Regions from separate parts of the Homo sapiens genome. Here region 2 is linked to region 1. Evidence: fine-mapped QTL for protein levels in blood plasma. A gene starts in region 1. The other region holds a variant in brackets. All regions are shown on one strand. Distances are between the middles of the regions.

Region 1 (8,000 bases):
GAGGCTGAGGTGGGAGGACCGCCTGAGCCTGGGAGATTGAGGCTGCAGCGAGCCATGATCACACTAATGCACTCCAGCCTGGGCAACAGAGTGAAACCCTGTCTCAAAAACAGGCAAACAAACAAAAAAACCAGAACACCTGAGAATAGTAAAATGTAGTGAGTGTAGTTGTGTGATTGTGTAATTAAAGCTTTTTTCTGTACTGTACAGTAGAGGGAAAAAACAGATAGTTTCAGTATGGCATGACTATAGTAATTTGAACACAAAACTTAGATTGCTAAGGGAAATAATCTGTATTAAGCTGAGCACAAAAGCTAAATGTTGGATTATAACTCAAGACTTCACTCTTCTGAAAGCACAGCTTTGCTTGTGACTGCCATAAAAAGTGGCCCTGAGGATCTCTATAGAGCAGATTAAAGGTGAGGAGAGTCATTACAATTGTCCCTTAGTATCCATGGAGGATTGGTTCCAAGATTCCCCTCAGATACCAAAATGCACGGATGCCCAAGTCTCTGACATAAAACAGTGTAGTATTTGCGTATAACCTATGCATACCTTCTCATATACTTTAAATCATCTCTAGATTACTTATAATACCAAATACAATCTAAATGTTATATAAATAGTTGTTATATTACTTAGGGAATCATGACGAGAAAAAAATCTGTGCATGTTCAGTACAGATGCTACCATCCATTTTTTTCCCCCAAATATTTTTGATTCTCGGTTGTTTGTATCCATAGATGCAGAACCCATGGAGAGGCCTGACTGTATATTGTACACCTGGGATTCTGTCTTGCTGCTACTAATAAAACTCTCTCAACCTTTTTGTTCTAGAAGAGGGTTTGAGGAAAGTATCATAGTTAAATCTGACTTGACTAACCCGAAAGATTAAGAGCTATGATTACCGTGATGCTTTTTGAAAGTGCAGTCTAGATACTGTGTATTAACAGGAAGTGTTTCACTGAAATCCTTGGCTTTGCCTTGCTTTTGTTATGCTTCCTAGTCTCTATGTTCCCAGAGCATGCAACTAACAAAGCACAGTTATTAGGCAAGTTTGAGGCAAAGGAGGCCTGTGGTTTGCATCTCTCAGCCAAATCAAACAACTTTTTAGACCAGTTACTGTTGCTTTGGACTCTTCCTACAATTCTTCACCTTCTCTAATCTTGATTGTACCTGACCTCCCCTTTGAAATCCCAGGTTTGCTATTAAATACAAAATGACTATAGGAATACTGTTAATCCAATTATGAATTACAATACTTTCGATAAATATTAACCCCATTAATAGTGTATTTTATAGAAACTACTTACCACTTGCTTGACAGTTTGAATTTTTACCATTTTATACCATGTGTCTTCAGTAGAATTTTGCCATATTATATAACCACAGGCAACCCAGGCTAAATGTAGAACGAGCGTCATTTCTGGAGATACATTTCCAAAATTGTCTGGTAGGAGACACATTTATATGATAATCATATATATAGTATTAACCTTTTAAAACAAAATCTAAATTCTAAATCATGTCTTAGTTTCCTTCGAATGTTGTGCAAAAAATAATTTAATTAAGCTATGGATCTATAAAATTTCTGAGGCCTCTTTTTTGTTGGATTGGATTAGAAATGAGTATTTTTGCAAAAGCCTGTAAGTTTCTAACATACTTAGCAACTAACAATTTTAAGCACAGATAATTGAGATTGATTTTAAGTTTGAATCAAACAAATGGTTTTCATGCCATATTTATATACCTGGAATATTTTGTGCTTCTAGCGGTTCCTTCATGGACTTAAGTCTTTGATAAAATGTGTTGTCTTCTTCATCTGGATTCTTTCCAGTTTCTCCTTCAAATGTGAAGTTGACTTCTGGTGCAGTTTCTTGTCCCGTTGAAGGGTAAAGTACTTCAGCTGTGCAGTTCACCTTAACTTGCTGTTTGAAATTTAGCAAAATATCCTTATATACAGAAGGCTATTCATTATTAATTATCATCTTTGAGATATGATTTAAAGCATAGGCTCCTAATGGTGTTGTTTTAGACTAGACTTCAAAGTGCTTGTTTTCAGAGGTATCTAATTGGGCCTGGCCTATTAAATTCTAGACTTATCATGTGAATACCCTAAAATAGATAACTTACTTTATAAATGATATGGTGTCATAATCTTATGAATTCTAGTCTTAAAACTTTCAGTATATTTCAGTATTAATGGGGTGTCCATTTGCAAGGCCAGATTTTAATCTGACTTTATATACCAACTCAAGACTGGTTACTTTTAAAGTTTTTCCATTACTCTTACTCTTTGCTCCTGAAATAACAAAGTTTTTGAAATGCAGATGCAGCAGTCTGTGTCTGGATATAAAATTAGAAGATTATGGCATTGGGTTATGCTTTGTAAAGATGGCTGTCTAGCAGCTCAGATGCCTTTTAATGAATCTCTTTATGAATTATGCTCAACAGAAAGGCAAGCTTTTTAAAATTTCAAGATGGCTGTGGTACAGATTGCAGTTCCTTTCTTTTAAGTTTGTCTCATTAATAATTTGACAGTTGTGTATAATCTTTAAAATTTCCCTTCCCCATTACTGAAAGATCTTCATCTGAATGGTGGTATCAGCTGGCATTCTATTGCTTCTGAATATCTAAGAGCACGTTCTTTCTCTAAAAACCCAGTGAAAAATAGAATGAGAAAAGCAGACGTTAAGAAGATGATTGATTGGGGAATAAATTACTTCACTCATTTATATTAGGCATAAGTTCAGACTGCCCTAAGAGTATGTAACTTCTTAAGAAATTCATTTGAACTGAAGTGTATAGTCTTTTTTTGTGTAGTTTGGTAGAAATAATTCATATACCTAGGAATACCCAAAGATAGTAAAGAACTGATCCTTGTAAACTTTGCCCATATGGTCAGTGTTTTTCAGAGGCAGGTATTTCACAACAACTTTTTAAAAAGAGGTAAAACTAATCAATCTTACAGATTTGATCAGCAAAGATGATCTGGAATATTTAGAATTAAATTTGTTTAATAAGAACATTTTGGCTGGGCTTGGTAGCTCATGCTTGTAATCCTAGCACTTTGGGAGGCAGAGGCAGGAGGATCACAAAAATTAGCCAGGTGTAGTGGCATGCACCTGTGGTCCCAGCTATTTGGGGAGGCTGAGGTGGGAAGATGGCCTGAGCCCGGGAAGTTGAGGCTGCAGTGAGCCATGTTCTGCCACTGCACTTCAGCCTGGGTGATAGAGTGAGACCCTGTCTCAAAGAAAAAAGAAATTTAACTTACTTTTTGTATAATTTCTTCAACAGCAAATTTAAGGTGATACTTATGTCCTCTTCCTGGAATATCCTAAAATTAAGAAAATGTAGTGGAGACAAGAAAATATTATAACAACATTATACTTGCATTGTTAGAAGTATGCATCTCATTTGGTTGGAGGGGCTGGCTGAAGGGGAATGGTGAAAGCCTTAGGTCTTGAAAAAGGCATGTCACCATGAATGTAACATCTAATTTAGCAAGTCCCCTATCAAGTTTATTTTGGATGAAAACAAAAGAGTAGGATAAAAGCATACAAATTGGGCACAATTCACTTTCAATCATCAAAAGACTTTATTTAACCCCTGGATCTGTGATCTTAAAGTCTCTACATAAGAAAGTTTGAAACAGCGTTTAATTCTAAAGATGACAATATCACCTTTGAAAAGATTTTTTCATAAAGCTCAGTGTACCCTCCAAATAATGTTCAATGAATGTGAATTTCATTTTGAGGCAGATTACTGCAAAGCAATTGGAGACTTAATACAATTAAGTATTGTTTTTACTTATACATTAGTGAAACTGCAAAATGATTAACAAATTATATAAGACTAAGAAATGGTATTTCACTTTTAAATCAAGATACAGATTGAAAATTTATACCTAATTCTGTTATCTGGTACAGTTTCAAAATAAGATCTACTGTGTCACCTCTAAAAGACTGTTAGCAGTTAAAATTCTGTCAGATAAATAAGGGATAATCTCAAATCCAGTAGATTTTCGTAAAATGAAAACAAACCTCGTTAGTGATTGCTGAGGCCTTAAACATTTAATTCAAGCCTTTAGCAGAGGGTGCACATCATTTAAGGCAGTCATGTGGTAGCGGTGTTTGGGTGGCTAAAGGCCAGCGTCAGCCCACAGTGCTTTTATTCTTTGACTTTGATTGTCAGTTTCTCTTGCTGTTTGTTTCCCCCTTCATTTTGGTCAAAGGGTCTGATAAGGATTTGTCTTAAAATGTAGGCAATAGAGTCTTGGAAGATGGGAGCTTTTGTTGGTCCAGATCAGAGTAGCAGATGAGAAACGTGGCAGCCTTAGTAGTCTTTTGAATGGTTTCTACAGTTTACACTTAAGGAAAGTGCTGCCCCTTACCTAGAGCGTGTTCCCGTTTTCTTGTAACTGTGTGCGTAAAAACTTTGTCTCTGCCTTAAGGTGAAAACAGTCCCGGGCTGTCTCCAGAGACTGGAGTATAGACATTCCCCCAGAAACCTTAATATCTCAAGACCAGATACCAGCAGTGTGTCCTAAAACAGAAGGTGGGTAGGGGGTGGCACGGAGTGTCTGCACCCAAAGGCTGAGACCGCGGGTGAGTGGAGGGAGCGCAATCCTGAAGCCTCTGCTGTCCACCACCCCCTGCTAAACTCACCTCCATGCTGGCTTGTTTGACCTTCTGCACCTCAAACACCCTGTGCGGGGTCCCCTGCTGGTAGTTGATGTAGTTCTGTGCCACCAAGGCCGCCCTGGAGGCTGGGTAGTTGGTCGGCGGGATTTCCATTCCGGATGAGCAGTGACTTCAGGGCTTGGGCTACTCTGGCTTAACGGGACCAGTAGCAGAGCGCCGCCCGTCCTGCTTGCTGCTGGGTCCGGTTGCCGAGGCGGAAAAGTCGCAAGCTCCTTCAGTCAGTCTTCTTCCTCAGCTCCTTCCGACTCCGGAAGCTGCTGTTTGGGCCCAGGCTCCCTGCATCCGAGAGCCCTGGGCTGACTGCTTCTGAGGCCCCGCCCCACTACTGCCTGCAGCGGGCTTCCTTACTCCGCCTGCTGGTTCCTACTGGAGGAGAGGCCAGCATGCTTGTCAGGCACCAGCAGGTGGAGGTGTGGGGAGGGAGTCAGTGGGCTAGGTTCGCTGGGATTGCATCTTTCGTTTCATTAACCTTTATAGAAGTGCAGGGTGGGGCTTTCGCTGATATAGGACATCTCTGAAGACTCTAGTTTCCTGTCCATGGGAAAAAAGTCTGGTTGCTTCGCTTGCATACTGGAGCACAACTTCCTTATACACCGCATGCAGCGTCCCTGGCAGGGCAAGGTACACAGTACTCCAGGTAGTGATTCGATTCCTTCATTTCCCTTCCCCTTATGAGAGTCCAGGAAGAGGCTTGCTCATCCTCAGCTTTTTGTGGGTTTGGACCAGTTCTGCCCAAATCAAAGTATGAGAATCTGCAAACTATAGTATTAAATTGGGAGATTATGTAATTTGGATCAGGAGAAATAAAAAAATGCACCTGTACCCCTCTCCTTTACTAATCTTAAAATGATAAGTTTTGATGTAACGCCATGCTTCCAACTTGAGTCATTTTGAATATTTTACTTCAAGGATTAAAATAAACTTAAAAACTGAACTTATACAAAGCACTCTCTCTGGTATGTGGTCTACCTCATTGCAATGGGCCTATAAACCTGACTTTGTAGAAGTACAGGTTTATCCTTGGTGGTCTTAGGTTAATTGGGCTAGGATAACTTGGAGATTCTACCAAAGTTTGGCCAAGGTCTTCGCTGCCTGGATTGAGACCTTTTTTTCTTTTCTTTTCTTTTTTTTTTTTTTTTTTTTGAGATGGAATTTCACTCTTGTTGCCTAGGCTGGAGTGCAATGGTGCTATCTCGGCTCACTGCAACGTCCGCCTCCTGGGTTCAAGCAGTTCTCCTGCCTCAGCCTCCAGAGTAGCTGGGATTACAGGTGCCCACCACAATGCCCGGCTAGTTTTTTGTATTTTTAGTAGAGACGGGTTTAGGCTAGGCTGGTCTCAAACTCCTGACCTCAGGTGATCCACCCACCTTAGCCTCCCAAAGTGCTGGGATTACAGGCATAAGCCACCATGCCTGGCCAGGACCTTTAACTTGGTAGTAATGCACACACCCAAGACTCTTGAGGTGTATCTCTTTCTGATTATGTAGATTCTGCAGTAAATCTGGATTCTGGACTTTGGCCTCAGTTTCATGCTTATTATTGTCTCCTGGGATTTGGGGGTTCTGATTGACTTTGCCTTTAAATACCATCTGTCTGCTTGCCCATCATCTTGTATCAAATGTCAATGAAACTTTTCTCAGTCTTGTCCGTGTATGAGAAATTTGCTTTGCGAGACACTGTCTTTCACACATGACCTTTTTTTTTTTTTTTTTGGAGACAGAGTTTCGCTCTGTTGCCTAGGCTGCAGTGCAGTGGCGTGATCTCGGCTCACTGCAACCTCCACCTCCCAGGTTCAAGCATTTCTCCTGCCTCAGCCTCCCTAGTATCTGGGACTACAGGTGCACTTCACCACACCTGGCTAATTTTTTTGTATTTTAGTAGAGATGGGGTTTCACCATGTTGAGTTCAGGCAATCCTCCCTCCTCTGCCTCCCAAAGTGTTAGGATTACAGGCATGAGCCACCGTGCCTGGCCTCTCCACGTTTCTTAGTTCAGCATTTGTTAAACCCTGACCCACCCATGGCAATATTTTTGCAAATACAGAATATCAGCCAATTTTCGATGGGGTTGTCAGATACGAACTTACACTGTCTCCTGGGATAAATTTACCAAAGAATTGGTGAAATTTGGGGAACTTTGACATGAAGAAGACTGTTCATTTGAGAGACACTTTAGAAGAACACCAGAAATAAAAAAATAAGACTTTCGGAGAACAGTATTTGTCTTATTTGTCTAAGAGCATTTTAAGTAGAAGACTGCCCATATTTTATTTCCATACTTCAAGGTTTTTTATTAATAACATGGCTTATATTTAAGCTTTTTCCTCTCTCCTTGAAAAGAAAAGATAATTAGCGTTTTACAGTGATAATTTCATATTTGTCTAAAACTGGCTGTAGCTCACCTTTTCCTGTTTCTCATTTTCTTTCATTAAAAATTTGAAAGATGATTCATGAGACTAAGTCATTCTGTCATTATATGTGCAGTCCAGGAATATCTAGTCCAAATAAACAGCCAAAAATGTCTAAGAAAAAAATCATTGTGCTTTAAAAAATGTGTAAAAATTAATGTGGTCAAATGAACTTAAATAGCCTTTATTATTATGTTTATAAGGAGCAAGTTTACGGCCGGGAGCAGTGGCTCACGCCTGTAATCCCAGCACTTTGGGAGGCCAACGCAGGTGGGTCACGAGGTCAAGAGTTCAAGACCAGCCTGGCCAATATGGTGAAACCCCGTCTCTACTTAAAATACAAAAATTAGCCGGGCGTGGCGGCGGGCGCCTGTAATCCCAGCTACTCGGGAGGCTGAGGCAGGGAACTGCTTGAACCCAGGAGGCGGAGGTTGCAGTGAGTGGAGATCATGCCACTGCACTCCAGCCTGGGTGACAGAGTGAGACTCCATCTCAAAAAAAAAAAAAAAAAAAAAAAAACAAGTTTTCAAGATAAAAGAGGAGCTCTTAAACATGATTTAATGATTTTTGAATATAAAGTTTATAAATTATATTTTTAAAAATGTATAAAATATTTCTGATTAATAGATGAATTTGGGTGAGCTGTAACAAAATAATATTTATTTAAAGTTGATTATATGTCTTCCAGGTTTTATTACATAATGATAAAATATTCCAAGTTCATATAAAACTGAATTTGATCTTTTCATGATCTAAACTTTCTAAATTTTATATATTGATCAAATGGGCCAAACAAGTTACTGATTCAATCAGTTGTATAAGATTACAAAATATAAAATGGTGTTTAAATAAAATTTTAATACAGATGTCTTTTAAAGGAGTTTTAATCTT
Region 2 (16,986 bases), 530 kb before region 1:
CCTAGATGATTTTTTCATAGACGTTTTTTCTCAGGTTTTTAACTGCAGTGCCATTTTAGTGTTTCACATCTTGACTCACATTGGAGCCCTTTGTTGCCCAGATACAATTAGGGACCAGATTTCCACCTGGGATGGCAACCACATTGTGGGGACCTCTAGTTGGGGGCTCCTGAATTGACTGAATGTACCCTTTGTTGCTTAGCTAAGTTAGAGCTACTTTTCTGTTTTTCAGCTAAGTTTCCATGTTGTGCAGAGAGGGGCTATGACCTCAAATCAGCTGAGTGGATGATCTGTCCATGTTCAATTTCCATGGCTCCTCTTCACTGGTATAGATAACCAGACAGTGACTGCACTTCTTTATGCAATATTTAGCACAGTATCAAGTTGGAGACTTTCATATGTGCTTTTGGTTGAGGTGATTTTGTTTTGGCAGTACCAAATTTCTTGCTATTTCTTGTGCCTCATTTATGCAGCGTGACGGAAAGATTGAGAGAATTCTATGTGGGGTGTGCTTTGTTTCCTGGGCAGGGCCCAGCCCAGAGTTTACCAAGGTGGCTTGACATAAGCACTACTATTAGATTTAACTAACTACTAAGCAGTTTTATTGGGTGGCTCCTTGAATGTGGCAAACACTTAAATGCAGTCCCTGCTTTAAATGAACTTATTGTCATAAGATTTCCTTTTTATTTTTTCTCTATATCTTTGTTTACTTATTCTTTTCCATCATTGTGTTATAACAAACTATAGAAAATAATGTTTCCTATATTCCATGATGTATTCAGGAGGAAAAGGATAATTCATTAAGTTAAAATTATTTTCCCCAAGTCATTCCTGTGAAATTGCAGAATTGTAGAATCTTGCCAAAAAATTAATAATGATTACTTAAAATATTTAAGTAGTTTAAAAGTAGGTAAACTGTTGTGTGTTTTATGGTGGGGTTGATTTTAAGTAAATAATTCCTTAATTATTCTCTTTACTTTCATTTTGTTTAGTCTATGTTTCACTCATTGTTTGGTGAGGAAGGGTCTAGAGTATTTATAAATCTGTTTCTTAAAAGATCATCATATTTGTTCTGTTTTCTAAAAACACTGCTTAATATTTGATGACATTTTCTTCTAGTACTTACTATAATTTTTTGAGAATGAATATTTTATTTTGGCCGGACACGGTAGCTCACACCTGTAATCCCAGCACTTTGGGAGGCTCAGGCAGGTGGATCATCTGATGTCAGGAGTTCGAGACCAGCCTGGCCAACATGGTGAAACCCTGTCTCTACTAAAAATACAAAAATTAGCTGGGCCTGGTGACGGGTGCCTGTAATCCCAGCTACTCAGGAGGCTAAGGCAGGGCAGGAGAATCACTTGAACCTGGGCGGTGGAGGTTGCAGTGAGCTGAGATCGCGCCACTGCACTCCAGTCCGGGCAACAGAGCAAGACTTAGTCTGGAAAAAAAAAAATTTTATTTTAATAAGCATGTTTATCTTGTGGGTGCTGCAAGCCTACAACTACATCAGGAAGTGCAGATAGTACCATACGAAACTGCATATTAAATTGTATGTTCCTGATGGTGGTGAACTTCAGTAACTTCTTGTGTGTGTTTAATACTTAGAATAAACTGCATTCACAGAGACGTGAAATTAATAGCTAATGATGCTTTTTACTGAATCCCATTAGTCTTTTTTTTTTTTTTTGAGATGGAGCCTCGCTCTTTCGCCCAGGCTGGAGTGCAGTAGCATGATCTCGGCTTACTGCAACCTCCGCCTCCCAGGCTCAAGTGATTCTCTTTCCTCAGCCTCCCGAGTAGCTGAGATGACAGGCGTGTGCCACCACGCCCAGCTAATTTCTGTATTTTTAGTAGAGATGATGGTTTCCCCATGTTGGCCAGGCTGGTCTTGAACTGGTCTCAAGTAATCTGCCCGCCTTGGCCTCCCAAAGTGCTTGGATTTACAGGCTTGAGCCACCATGCTGGGCCTGAATATCCAATTAGTATTTTTTTTCTTTTTAAAATAAATATGGGAAGGACATTTTGCATTCTAATCTTTCTTCCAAAGATTTGTGTTGAAATACATGGTAAATTTTTTCCTCACAGGATTATTGTGAGAAGAAGTTACGAAATAACCTATTAGCATCCTCTACTCTATAAATTAATTTCTTCTCCAAACTTGAGATTTTGGGGTTTTCACTGGTTCTGTTATTTGTGAAATAATTTGTGTTCACCCTCTGTCACTACCTCTTGCCTTTGGAATCTGTGCATTTTGAGTCAGTTACCTTTCAGCATTATTTTCAGGCTGTAGATTTAAAAGTTTTATAGTTCACTTTCATACGGGAGGCCCCCAGCCCTTACCTTCCTAAAAATTTTATTTTCCTTACATGGATTGTCAGGCTCTTGTTAAGAAATGGTTTTATATAAAATAGACTTAGGTAGTATTTTGTTTTCTGTTTCCGATATGCACTCTGCTAATGGCCACTATTACCATTGGCCTTTCTGACTGTAACAGCACATTGGACATGTTACTGTTCAGGAAACAGTATATAATGACTCCCAGATCTCTTTCCAGAGCTCTCTTATTTTATGAGTGTAATAATCCCTTCTCATTTATGAGTTTGCCTTATTTGGAATTCAGATCTAATGTAAATTTACTTCTGTACTGTATATGTTTTTCAGAACCTCTGCTGGACATCTGAGTCACTTGTTTCTACTTTTGTTCTTCTGCCAATTTCCTCTTAGGTGATTGGTCACATATATACTAAGTATCATGAAAATGTATTATATTTTATCATTGTGCTACGTGTACTACCATGTGGTATTTGTAGCCTTTGTGATATTGGGCAAGAAAAGATTAAAAAGAAACATTGTTTATGCTGTTAGAGATATTACTGCCCAGGTAAATGTCTAGTAGTGTTATATAAAGGAAAAGACTCTTCCTGCTAGAGAGGATTTAAAATGACTCTCCTGTAATCAAGCTTGAGGAATATTGACTATGGAAGCAAAGCTCTCAGGCACCAGAGAGCTGTAGTATCACGGAGCATTTTTATTAATTTATAAAACTGGTAACTAACATTTTGCCTCAAATGCTTTTTAAAAATCAAAGCTTTTTATAGGAATTAATAGGTATGGATGTTTTTAAAGTCCCTATTTTGAGAAAATGTCTAAGCAAAGTCTAAGAATGGACCTTCAGATGAGGTGTGAATGAATTATAGCCAATAATGAAGTGTAAAGAGACTTTCAAAAGAAGTCCACAGCTTCTATTCCATGCTTTATCCAAAGGATGGAGAAAATTCCAGTTTTTTTGGATCATGGCAGGAAAATCTGGTTGCTGGTTGATTCTTAACCTTTCTTGGGTCACATCAGGTATAGTGTGATGTCAAAGGGTGAATCTGATGAGAAGTATGGATCATCTTTACGTAAAATTTCATATATTTACATGCATAATTTTGCATGTTCTTTAACAGGATTCACAGAAGTCCTAAAACTCCATGGACCTCCTGGTTAAGGACACATTTATGCTAATGTCAGAAATATTCAAGCAGCTTTTAGAATTAAACTTAAATGACTATGCAAGTGTAAATATCTATGAGCTAAGGTAGGAGGCAGGTCCTTCCCAGTAACTAACTACATCCTTTCCTTCTTATTTTAGCCCCATGTATTTACCTATTTCATCTTAAGTTCTAATACTACTTAAGAGTGTAGCTTATTACCAGTTTAGGGTAGAGAAATACCATTGGTAGCTATTCAGTGTCTTCTTTGTTCCCCGCATTTCATTTTAGGGAATATAAAGCATTTGTGAACCATTATAGATTGTTTTGCAATCTCATTAAAAGATTAGGTTATGAGTTCTTTATCTAAGATTTCTCGGCCAGGCGTGGTGGCTCATGCCTGTAATCCCAGCACTTTGGGAGGCCGATATGGGCGGATCACTTGAGCTCAGGAGTTCGAGACCAGCCTGGCCAATATGGTGAAACCCCGTCTCTACTAAAAATACAATAATTAGCCGGGCGTGGTGGTGCACGCCTGTAGTCCCAGCTACTCTGGAGGCTGAGGCAGGAGAATCGCTTGAACCGAGGAGGCAGAGGTTGCAGTGAGCCAAGAGTGTGCCACTGCACTCCAGCCTGGGCAACAGAGCGAGACTCCGTCTCAAAAAAGAAAGAAAGAAAGAAAGAAAGATTTCTCCTACCATGAGGATTTTTAAGAACTTAATCATCATGATTTGAAAGTTTTATTATCCATTAAATCTATTATATTATGCTTACCTTCATTGTAGATTTTTGTTTCTTTATATATATCTCCCTAGTTTTTCTAATTGTTGATCTTTGTTAGTATTGACATTTCTCATCATCTTCATATTAGAAGATTTCAGTATTGTTTCTTGTTCTAGATAACTTATAAAAATATTAAGTGGGTTGATCCTGTAGCCATCTTGGAATGGTTCATTGTGGAGTACTTTTGGAGTAGTTTATTTTTCGTACCAACGGTTAGTCCATTCTTGCATCACTTAAAAAGGAATACCTGAGACTGAGTAGTATAGAGAAAAGAGGTTTAGTTTAGTTGGCTCACAGTTCTGCAGGGTAGATATGATGCATAGTGCCAACACCTGCTTCTAGTGAGGGCCTCAGGAAGTTTATAAACGTGGTGAAAGGTGAAGGGGGAGCCAGCACATCACATGGTGAGAGTGGGAGCAAGAGAGAGTAGGAAAAGTGTCACACCCTTTTAAACAAACCAGATCTCCGTAGAACTCACTATCTTGAGGACAGCACCATGCCGTTCATGCCGTTCATGAGAGATCCACCCTGATGACCCATACACCTCCCACCAGGGTCCACCTCCAACACTGGGGATTATATTTCAACATGAGATTTGGAGGGATGAAGAAAATGCCAGTTTTTTCAAGTGCCTCTCTCTCCCTCACTTGTGTCGTAGGCTTCCCTTAAGACAGCGATCAAGTCTTACTAATTTTGTATCATCAGTTCCTAGCATGGTGGTACCTAACATTGTATTTCAGCATCCTAATAGTAGATTCAGTAGATTGAATGAATGATTGACTTCTACATTTCCAATACAGGTATTTAAAAAAGTAATCTACTTGAGGCCTTTGTTAAGGAGGCTTTTTGAAAGTCTAACCTTTGTTTGATTATCTCTACCTCCAGAAGAAGAGTTGTGTGCATCGTCAGGTATATGCTAGACCAGTTCAAGTCTAACACTTATTCCCAGGATGTTAGTTTCTAAAATCCTGGTTGATTGTTTGAAATCTTGGAGGGAACCTTCAGAAAAATATTAATAATATACTTTTAGGTTTTGAGATAAAATCTTTGAAAGGGATTCAGGCAGGCTTTAAAATTACTGATCAGAGATGGCCTTTCCACTTTTAAAGAAAAGATTGAAGGGAATGGTACTATCTGAAAGAGTAATGCATTGAATATCTGACCTTAAGTATTTGTTTTCCCCTAGGAGATAGCATGATGTGGTTCTTTTAATGCCACTTCAAGAATATGTATATCAAAGTTAAATAGTAGGGACATTACTTATTTTTTTAAATGAAAAGTATTTTGGAATTCACTTTTTACTCAATTGTTTAAATTCTTAGAAATCAAGGATTGTATATGACTAGGTTCATGTCTATCAATAAAACAATAGCTTATAAAATTTTTTTAGGCAATAGTGATTGTTATGTTACTAACATAGTATTCTCCAAATTTTTTAGCAGTCATGATTTCTGAACTTTGAGTGGAAATGAAAAACAAAAACAAAAAACAAACCTTGAATTAGGGGTAATAAAGCAGGAAGGAAGCTGGTAGAAAAGCCTTCTGTATCTTCAAGCAATATCCCACCAAGAGGATATTACCAAGCTATAATTGACAACTTTGGGGAATTAAACTTCATATGGCAATGCCAAAGGCTCTAGTAATCATTAATGGTAAATGTCTGCTACTATGTTGGCTTTTATTATTACTAGCTGTAGAAAAAGCTAAAAATATGACTGAATTGGTGTTGTTACACTTTGAACATCCTCTATATTATTTCCTGGTATTGTTTTTAAAAGTACTTTTTAGTGTTTCCCTTTACTGATGCTTTGTAAAGTCCATCAAAGGACATTAAATACATAGATTTTATTTTTAAATTGTAAGGGATTGTAAGTAGAATAAACACCTTCATTTCTTTCAGAAATAGAAATTTTTTTTAAATTATTTTATTATACTTTAAGTTTTAGGGTACATGTGCACAACGTGCAGGTTTGTTACATATGTATACTTGTGCCATGTTGGTGTGCTGCACCCATTAACTCGTCATTTACATTAGCTGTATCTCCTAATGCTATCCCTCCCCCCTCCTCCCACCCCTCAACAGTCCCCGGTGTGTGATGTTCCCCTTCCTGTGTCCAAGTGTTCTCATTGTTCAATTCCCACCTGTGAGTGAGAACATGCAGTGTTTGGTTTTTTGTCCTTGCGATAGTTTGCTGAGAATGATGGTTTCCAGCTTCATCCATGTCCCTACAAAGGACATGAACTCATCATTTTTTACGGCTGCATAGTATTCCATGGTGTATATGTGCCACGTTTTCTTAATCCAGTCTATCACTGATGGACATTTGGGTTGGTTCCAAGTCTTTGCTATTGTGAATAGTGCCGCAGTAAACATACATGTGCATGTGTCTTTATAGCAGCATGATTTATAATCCTTTGGATATATACCCAGTAATGGGATTGCTGGGTCAAATGGTATTTCTAGTTCTAGATCCCTGAAGAATCGCCACACTGACTTCCACAATGGTTGAACTAGTTTACAGTCCCCCCAACAGTGTAAAAGTGTTCCTATTTCTCCACATCCTCTCCGGCACCTGTTGTTTCCTGACTTTCTAATGATCGCCATTCTTACTGGTGTGAGATGGTATCTCATTGAGGTTTTGATTTGCCTTTCTCTGATGGCCAGTGATGATGAGCATTTTTTCTTGTGTCTGTTGGCTGAATAAATGTCTTCTTTTGAGAAGTGTCTGTTCATATCCTTTGCCCACTTGTTGATGGGGTTGTTTTTTTCTTGTAAATTTGTTTGAGTTCTTTGTAGATTCTGGATATTAGCCCTTTGTCAGATGAGTAGATTGCAAACATTTTCTCCCATTCTGTAGGTTGCCTGTTCACTCTGATGGTAGTTTCTTTTGCTGTGCAGAAGCTCTTGAGTTTAATTAGATCCCATTTGTCAATTTTGGCTTTTGTTGCCATTGCTTTTGGTGTTTTAGACATGAAGTCCTTGCCCATGCCTAAGTCCTGAATGGTATTGCCTAGGTTTTCTTCTAGGGTTTTTCTGGTTTTAGATCTAAGGTTTAAGTCTTTAATCCATCTTGAATTAATTTTTGTATAAGGTGTAAGGAAGGGATCCAGTTTCAGCTTTCTACATATGGCTAGCCAGTTTTCCCAGCACCATTTGTTATATAGGGAATCCTTTCCCCATTTCTTGTTTTTGTCAGGTTTGTCAAAGATCAGATAGTTGTAGATATGTGGTATTATTTCTGAGGGCTCTGTTCTGTTCCATTGGGCTATATCTCTGTTTTGGTAGCAGTACCATGCTGTTTTGGTTACTGTAACCTTGTAGTATAGTTTGAAGTCAGGTAGCATGATGCCTCCAGCTTTATTCTTTTGGCTTAGGATTGACTTGGCAATGCGGGCTCTTTTTTGGTTCCATATGAACTTTAAAGTAGTTTTTTTCAATTCTGTGAAGAAAGTCATTGGCAGCTTGATGGGGATGGCATTGAATCTATAAATTACCTTGGGCAGTATGGCCATTTTCACGATATTGCTTCTTCCTATCCATGAACATGGAATGTTCTTCCATTTGTTTGTATCCTCTTTTATTTCGTTGAGCAGTGATTTGTAGCTCTCCTTGAAGAGGTCCTTCACATCCCTTGTAAGTTGGATTCCTAGGTATTTTATTCTCTTTGAAGCAATTGTGAATGGGAGTTCACTCATGTGGCTCTCTGTTTGTCTGTTATTGGTGTATAAGAATGCTTGTGATGTTTGCACATTGATTTTGTATCCTGAGACTTTGCTGAAGTTGCTTATCAGCTTAAGGAGATTTTGGGCTGAGATGATGGGGTTTTCTGGATATACAATCATGTCATCTGCAAACAGGGAGAATTTGACTTCTCTTTTCCTAATTGAATACCCTTTATTCCTTTCTCCTGCCTGATTGCCCTGGTCAGAACTTCCAACACTATGTTGAATAGGAGTGGTGAGAGAGGGCCTCCCTGTCTTGTGCCAGTTTTCAAAGGGAATGCTTCCAGTTCTTGCCCATTCAGTATGATATTGGCTGTGGGTTTGTCATTAATAGCTCTTATTATTTTGAGATACGTCCCATCAATATCTAATTTATTGAGAGTTTTTAGCATGAAGGGCTGTTGAATTTTGTCGAAGGCCTTTTCTGCATCTATTGAGATAATCATGTGGTTTTTGTCATTGGTTCTGTTTATATGCTGGATTACGTTTATTGATTTGCGTATGTTGAACCAGCCTTGCATCCCAGGGATGAAGCCTACTTGATCATGGTGGATAAGCTTTTTGATGTGCTGCTGGGTTCGGTTTGCCAGTATTTTATTGAGGATTTTTGTGTCAATGTACATCAGGGATATAGGTCTAAAA[T/A]TCTCTTTTTTTGTTGTGTCTCTGCCAGGCTTTGGTATCAGGATGATGCTGGCCTCATAAAATGAGTTAGGCAGGATTCCCTCTTTTTCTATTGATTGGAATAGTTTCAGAAGGAATGGTACCAGCTCCTCCTTGTACCTCTGGTAGAATTCAGCTGTGAATCCATCTGGTCCTGGACTGTTTTTGGTTGGTAAGCTATTAATTATTGCCTCAATTTCAGAGCCTGTTATTGGTCTATTCAGAGATTTAGCTTCTTCCTGGTTTAGTCTTGGGAGGGTGTATGTGTCGAGGAATTTATCCACAGAAATAGAAATATTTCTAGCTAAGATTGGCTTTTTTATTAAGAAAATTTCAAACATACTCAAGAGAAGAAATACAATATATACACAGTACCTAGATTGAACAGTTACCAAGATTTTCCCCATGGCTGCTTGTGCTGCTGCTGTTGCTGGTGGTAGTGCTGCTGCCTCCCCCTCCCTCTCCATCTTCTTCCTTTTCTTTCTTCTGCTTTTCTGCCTTTTTTTTTTTTTTTTTTTTTTTTTTTGCTGATGTATTTCAAAGCAAAATGGGACACTGTGTTATTTTACAAATGTGTACTTCACTTTAAATCTCTACCCGCTAAAAGGAAATTTTCTTATATCACATAATGCCATTATTATTTTTTTCCATGTGTGAGACAGCATCTTGCTCTGTCACCCAGGTTTGAATGCAGTGGTGCAGTCACAGCTCACTGCAACCTTGACCACCTGGGCTCAATTGATCCTCTCATCTCAACCTCCTGAGTAGCTGGGACTACAATTCCATCATTATTTTGATGTTTTGGTACTCATCTTCTGGCCATCAACTCATGTTTTTGTATTTACCTATCTCCACATTTAAGCCATTGTCATACTTCAGGAAATCTATGTTCCATATCTTTAATAAATTTTCTTTTTTTTTTATTTTTCAAAAAACCTAACTTTAAATTTATCTTTGACCTCAAAGTAGCAGTTTTCATTTTTTTGTAACCTAGAAGAAAACAGAAAATAGATTATTTTTTCATGTGGTTAAGTCATGTACAATAATCAGCCTCCAAAAACAAATTTAAAAAGTATTTCCTGAATGGTATCCCAGTTTCCTACTACATTATTGGTTTGTTCAAATTTTTTTCCAAATTCAAAAGTGTACGTTTTAGAAGTATACATTTAGTTGAACAATAGGAGAAATTCTCATATTATAATCTGGCTGTGTAGGGAATCATACTAATTCTGTTTATGTAGTCTAGCAGTGCTTCTCAAATTATCTGTGGTAAAGGACTTTTTTTAAACTCTATATTTTCAATCCATTGCAGACTAATATTTTTAAAAATGCAATAAAAATGTTATAGTTGTGTCCAATAACTATAAAATTTTCTAAACTCTTATTCTTAATTTCTTTATCCCATCGTGAACTGTACTAGTTTGTGGACTAGCACTGGTCCGTGGAACAACTTGAATAGCTTTGAGATATTGTTACTATTAAACGTGGTACAGGTAATTGATGTATACTTACCTATTATCTGGGATTATAAACCCCAGGAACTTTTTTAAAAAGAGTAAATGATATGCTTCCTATGTATTTCCCTTTATCTGTCCCCTTTGTAGCTCTTCTTGTTTGGTGCATGTAAGACTATTGGTAAACATGTATCAATAATTGTATGGGGTCATTGGAATGTTCAGTTGGGTTGGAGAAGCAATTTGATCATTCTCCTCATAAAATGTGCAAGATCCAAATTTGTTCTTAAAAGGTGTGTGTGTGTGTGCGTGTGTGTGTGTGTGTGTATGCGGCACATGAGGTGTAACTGGAAGCCTTAGACATGACTCAGAGAAACAGTACAGTAAGATATCAATAGTGTTAGATTAGGAGTCACAGGACCTGGATTTCAATCCCTTTTTCATGACTTAGAACCATGTATTTTGACTTCTCTCTGGGCTTGTTTATTCATCTGTAAATTGGGGTTACTAACTACTTTGCCAAGTTTTGAATGTCATAAACTCATCTTTTAATCAGTTGTTTATTCTCTAGGAGCCCTTAGCAACAAGGTGTTTGTGAGTTGATTCTGCTGAGGGAAGAGTTAAGAAAGAAAAGCAAAAAATAAAAAATAAAAAAAGACGGTATTTCATTCTAGTTCTGCAGAACTGGATTGCCTCAGCTACTTTATACATTTGTATACGAATATATACTTTTTTTTTTTTTTGAGATGGAGTTTCACTCTTATTGCCCAGGCTAGAGTGCAATGGCGCGATCTCGGCTCACTGCAGCCTCCACCTCCCAGGTTCAAGTGAGTCTCCTACCTCAGCCTCCCGAGTAGCTGAGATTACAGGCACATGCCGCCACGCCTGGCTAATTTTTGTACTTTTAATAGAGACGGGGTTTCACCATGTTGGTCAGGCTGGTCTCGAACTCCTGACCTCAGGTGATCCACCCACCTCAGCCTTCCAAAGTGCTGGGATTACAGGCGTGAGCCACTGCGCCCAGTCACAAATGTATGCTTTTATGTATTTGCTGTACTTTCGGTTTACTACTTTATAGCTTCTTTACCTACTACTGAGTACAGTTTATCTTTTCTTTATAGTTTCTTTTTACTCTTAAGTGTTTATAGTTGAGCATACTGAATGATCATCAAAGCTCCTTTGATATTTCTATTTTAGCTTTAGTTCTTTCTTCTAACTGCATCATTTTCTCAGTATATCCCACTTTACATTCCTGAGTGAGGGAATCTGATTGACTCAACTAATAATTCTTATATGGGATGAGCTATATCAAGGGTTGCTGGCCAGCTGTGGACTGCCTGCCTTAAGATCAGGTATTCCCATCTGGTTTGGTCACGCGTGACTAGGCTATATCTTGGTTGTAGAGCTTGATAGGGGATGTGGGAATGGCATGCTTGTTGCAGATGCGATGGTCTAAGTGAACAGACTATAAAAGGAAATGAAATTCTTAAAGGTGAATACATGCACATTCACTTATTCGTATTTGAGGGTAAAATATATTTGGAGGGAAGAGGGTAAATTATTTGAGAAAATTAGGTATAGGTTCAACATAGTGAACATGATGCTATAGGTATTCAGATTTCCTTAAACATTATACCTATTCCAACTCTGGTTGAAACCAACCTTTCTTAGATTGTAAAACCCATCAGGATCAAAGACCAAGGGGGCATGGCTATCAAGTAACTACCATGTCTATTTATTCCTAATACAGCACTTTGAAAAATCATGTTCCTATTGTTCTGGCAACCTCAAGGGAACTCTGAAAGCACTCAACTGAGTGACAGCATAACCCTGTAACACAATTTTGTTTTTCAAGTTCAGTAACTTTTAGGAAATGTTTTATTCTCATTAAAATGCACTGAAGATAAAGAGGATTTCTGTGGTGTTTATCTTTAATATTCTACATCTCTGTTAACATTTTATTTTCAAATTAAAAGCCTGTTTTAAGGGTCTTCTCTTATGTAAACTTTTTTGTTCCAAAAGGTTTTTGGTTAATTTTATCATTCATTGTAGAAAAAGCAGGGAAAAGTTGTAAAGGACCAAGTTGTAATGCTGAATTGCTCTTGCCAACTGCTAGTGCTGTTTAAAGGATATGATAGATTAAAGGCTGAAAGTTTTTAATTGAATCATAACTGTTAGACTTGCCAGTTATTTTAGACATCCTTTTAATTAAGGTGGGTCCATTTATTGCACCAGTATAAGATTATGTTTGTTATTTGCCTTTGTCCCCATAGCATAAAACCAAAGAAAAGGGTTGGATTTACTTTGTATTTGGGGGAAATCACAAAGCTGAGTATTTCTGACTTGAACACAGTTTCTAAAAATGGTGAACATTATTTGGAACAGCAAAGACTATAAGAAATTGAAATGTTCTAAATATAGTAATATTATTTGCTAATTGAAATGAAGATCTTCATTTAATAAGCTGTCTGGTTGTGTTTTTTTCCATTTCACACAATATTTATTGAGCTTATATTAATATTATGTGTTAGGGACAGTAGTAGGTCTTGATATCAATTAGGATGATATGTAAGAGACTATAAGAGAGGGTTGTTCCTTGGCTTAGCTTGGTAGTTGGAGTGGGAAAGCATTTTGGGAAGTATTTTGGAGCTAGAATTGATCTTTAATCTGTGGAGTTTTGGAAATCTGTGGAGGTGCTTCCGGGACTGCCATGAGTTTTTCTTTTGTTTGGGAGCGAGGGGTGCTTTAACTGGAACAGATCTATATCTAATTTTCTTGTATGTTAGGGTTCTGTGTAAGATATTATTTGGGCATAGGATTCTTTGTAAGGAATTCATCTTCTTTCTCTTTTAAATTCCTGGTAACTTCATAACCTATACCAGTCAGATTTGCCATTACTTCAGTGAGGTTATTTATGTACATCTCTAACTAAATTATATATTCCCTATGAGTATTTTACTTGATATTGCCCATATACCTTATATTTATCCTTTGAATGTGTAGGGGAGAAAAAATATCTTTTTCTCACGCATTGCCAGGTGCATGGCGGAGGCCCCTGCAACAAAAGACAGATTAACAAGAGAGAAGCATACAGATTTATTTACTATAATAAATAAAGTGACACAGGAGCCTTCATAAGGAAATGAAGACATGAAGAAAGGGGTAAATCTGTGTATATTTTATGCTGGGCTTGATGAGGAAGTGGATAATCGTGAAGCATGATTGGATAAAAAAGTGTGATCTAATGTTAGTCAGCTGGGGGGAATTTAGCAAGGCCTGTTTGTTCAGATTCTACTCTGTGACTTTGTGTCTTCAAAGATTAGGATGTTTCTTTCTTTTGGGGATATGGAGGGCACCTCTTCAGTGAGGATCTTGCGACTTGCTTCCTGACTAGGTCAGAAAGCTTTTGTAGTGTTCATGACCTACTTCAGGGGAGAAGGGGAAGAGGGAGAACAGAGGCTGCCTTTCCAGCTTCTTTGTTTTTCCCAGATATGTTCAGCTTAAAATGTTTTGGGGGAGTGTGTCCTGCCCAAGTACATATGTCCTGAATGCCATCAAATAAATGCCAACTAGGTGGTAGGTCCTGTGCTGCGCGGTGTGAATGCAGAACCAGTATTCTTAAAATCTAGTGAGAAAACATATATGAACATGATTATGCTTCTGATATGTAAATGCTACCCTTTTAGGCATGCAAAAAGTTCTGGGAGGACACAGTGTCATTATATGTAGTCAGTAAATACTGTACAGTAAATACTGTACAAGTATTGCTCAATGAATGAATGTTAATTAAAATATACTAGGGTAGTATAAGAAACCTCACAAAAGTCCTTGGCATTATGATTTAACTATGTAACATATATTTAATATTGTAGAGTAAAATGAAACTTGTTAGGTTCTTTTTAAGTGTGATAGATAAGTTAGAGCCTTTGATTATGGCTTGAGGTATTAAATCTCTGTCTAGTGTATTTGTATATTTAATTTTCTGTACTTATAAAAATTAAAAATCATATCTTATGGGCAAAATGTTTTTTTTTTTCAGATATTGAATAATATAGGAGACGAGTATAAAGTAGGAGTTGGAAGACCTGGTTTCTCTGGACTCTGTTTCTCTTATTAGCTGTTTGACCTTAGGCAAATAATTGAACTTAGCTGAACTTCAGTTTTAGGGAATCATAATATTAAATAGTGAGCTCCTTGAGGACAGTGTCTGTGCCGTATTGATTTTTGCTAGGGTGACCAACCATCTTGGCTTGCCGGGGACTTTGTTTTAGCACTGAAAGTTCCATGTCCCAAGAAACTCTTCAGTCCTGGGCCAAGCAGGATGTTAGTCATTCCAGTAGTATCACTAGTGGCTAGCTCTTGGCTGGCACTTAGTAACTGTTCAGTAAGTGACTGGAATTAAATGTCTCCTCTGTCTTTTTCACAGAATTGATGTAAAGATCATATTATATTTTGTGAAAGTATTTTGAAAATAATAAAAGCTGTACCAATAAAGTTGATATTGTTCTTCCCATCAGTATTCTCTTGGAATGAATTCATCTCAGAATTTGTGTAGGAGTTAATTTGGTATATAAATGTTTGATTACTCAATGTTTCCAGTTCGTGTCTGTTGCCTAAAGTGAGATACATGTGAGTACATATTATCTTCTAAATTTATTTCTTCTTCCCAGAAGTAAATGAGATGTGAATTAAAAATTGATCCTGTAGTCTTGTAGTTTCACGTTTAATAATATGACTTTTAGTTTTAACTGAGGAGCTGATTTCACATTTGAATGAGTATTTGGCTTCTGTTGTATTTGATTATTGTACATGTTTTATCTTAGGCTTAAAAGCCATTTTATAGGACATCTTTTAATTATGATCTTAGTAGATCTAATAACCCTAACACTTGGAAAGTTTAGAATAATAAATGTAAAGATGCCTAAGTGGGCACTATATGTATCTAGGAACTAAATGCTCTGTAAATTTCTCAGGTATAGTAAAGTCCTGAGGAAAGCAGGTGGAGTTTTCCAGACAACCTACCTCTGGGCAACCCTTTCTGTCCTTTTTAAAGCAACTTTCTCCCTATACCTTCTGTATTTGTATTGACTGAGCAAATTCTCAGTCACATTTGCTTATTTGCTACTAACTATGTAGCTTAAATCTTGTGTCAGTTACTTAAGTGCCTCTTCTAGAGATTCTCTTAACCATCAAAGTGATCTGCAACTCTTTCTCTTTGGAGACACTTGAGGATGGGTATGGAACTCTCTTCTTGTAGAGTTGCCAGTAGAGGCAATTCCCACCCCCCTATTTATTGGTTATTTTCTGCTTCTTTTCTTGAACTATTTTAAAATTTTTCATTCTTAAATAAAACATCAGGGAAACTCCACAGTCTCTTGCTAGCCACAATGTTTCTGCTGTAACTAAAGAATGACAATGTGGCATGGTATTGTGTTGCAGGGTAATGCTGTAACTTAATAAGTGATTTTAAGAGTTTCCTTGAGGTTGCCATAAAGCTAGAAGACATGATTTCAGAAAGCACTGTATTAAGGATAAATAGATGGTGGAGTTACTTGGTAGTCATGCCCCGTTGGTCTTTGATCTTGTTGGATCTTACAATCTAAGAAAGGTTGAGTTTGACCAGCATCTGAATAGGTGTGATGTTTAAGGAAAGCCGAATACCTCTAGCATAATTATGTTCACTGTGTCGAACCTATACTGTAAAGTTTGTGAACCAAGATTGTCTTTTTGGATTGAGGAGCTTGTTTTTGAGAGTCTTGATTGTTATTGGTATATAAAACTTCTCTTTGTCTGTTGCTCATGTGGTATGTGATCTTAGGTAGAGTAAATTTATATGATGAGAAATCCCAGGATAATTATGAGACTGGGATACATGTATGCAAAATGTGAAAATATAGCTTTCCATTCTTCTTTAGATATTTCCCCAATAAAACTCCAAATTTAAAACAACCTGAATCCTTGACTGGACAGCTATACCTCAGAGATATTGCAGGTTTGTATCCACACCACCACAAGAAGGTGAATATTGCAATAAAGCAAGTCATATGAATTTTTTTGTTTCCCAGTGCATATAGAAGTTATGTTTACTCTATACCATAGTCTGTTAAGTATGTAATAGCATTGTGTTTAAAAAACAATGTACATACCTTAATTTAAAAATACCTTATTGCTTAAAAATGCTAATGATCATTTGAGCCTTCGGTGAGTCATAATCTTTTTGCTGGTGAGGGTCTTGCCTTGATGTTGATGGCTGCCCACTGATCATGGTGGCGGTTGCTGAAGGTTGGGGTGGCGGTGGCAATTTAAAATAAGACAACAATAAAGTTTGCTACATTGATTGACCCTTTTTTAAATGAAAGATTTCTCTGTAGCAATTGATGCTGTTGTCTAGTATTTTACCGATCATAGAACTTTTTTTTTTTTTTGAGAGGGAGTCTCACTCTGTCACCTAGTCTGGAGTGCAGTGGTGTGATCTCGGCTCACTGCAACCTCTGCCTCCCGGGTTCAAGCAATTCTCCTGTCTCAGCCTCCTGAGTAGCTGGGACTACAGGCTCATGCCACCATGCCCAGCTAATTTTTGTATTTTTAGTAGAGACAGGTTTTCACCATGTTGGCCAGGATGGTCTCGATCTCTTGACCTCATGATCCGCCCACCTCTGCCTTCCAAAGTGCTCGATTACAGGCGTGAGCCACTGCGCCCGGCCAGAACTTCTTTCAAAATTAGAGTCAGTCTTCTCAAACCCTGCTGCTGCTTTATCAACTAAGTTTATGTAACATTTAAATCCTTTGCCGTGATTTCAGCAGTATTTACAGCATCTTCACCAGCAGTGGATTCTATCTCAAGAAACCACTTTTTTGCTCATCCATAAGAAGCAACTCTTCATTTGTTC

Which allele goes with the higher level. Alleles are on the strand shown, and positions count from the first base shown. The strength of an association depends on the size of the effect and on how common the allele is.
For the plasma level of the protein whose gene starts at base 4,966 in region 1, allele T in region 2 goes with a higher level than allele A (weak association).

The links. A credible set is the group of variants that fine-mapping cannot tell apart. PIP is the chance, under the fine-mapping model, that this variant and not a neighbour inherited with it causes the effect. The UK Biobank Pharma Proteomics Project read protein levels with antibody pairs (Olink). The fine-mapping took linkage between variants from a reference panel, not from the people measured, so its PIPs are less certain.
Region 2: its variant is the best candidate, but not a certain one, in a credible set for the plasma level of the LXN protein (UK Biobank, PIP 0.73).

Annotation. Positions count from the first base shown.
Region 1 is chr3:158,667,683-158,675,682 of GRCh38, forward strand. It overlaps LXN (latexin), which reads right to left and starts at 4,966. Exons shown (of 6, transcript NM_020169.4): 1 at 4,668-4,966; 2 at 3,275-3,337; 3 at 1,751-1,928; 4 at 1,314-1,450. The coding sequence starts at 4,796. The region is part of intron 13 of GFM1 (G elongation factor mitochondrial 1); the gene reads left to right. RefSeq lists enhancers at 4,183-4,775, 4,290-4,349, 4,776-5,368, 4,790-4,839, 5,150-5,339.
Region 2 is chr3:158,137,962-158,154,947 of GRCh38, forward strand. The region is part of intron 3 of RSRC1 (arginine and serine rich coiled-coil 1); the gene reads left to right. Among named protein-coding and RNA genes, the nearest start is that of RSRC1, 36 kb to the left of the region's middle. The variant T/A (reference allele first, on the strand shown) is at 8,625.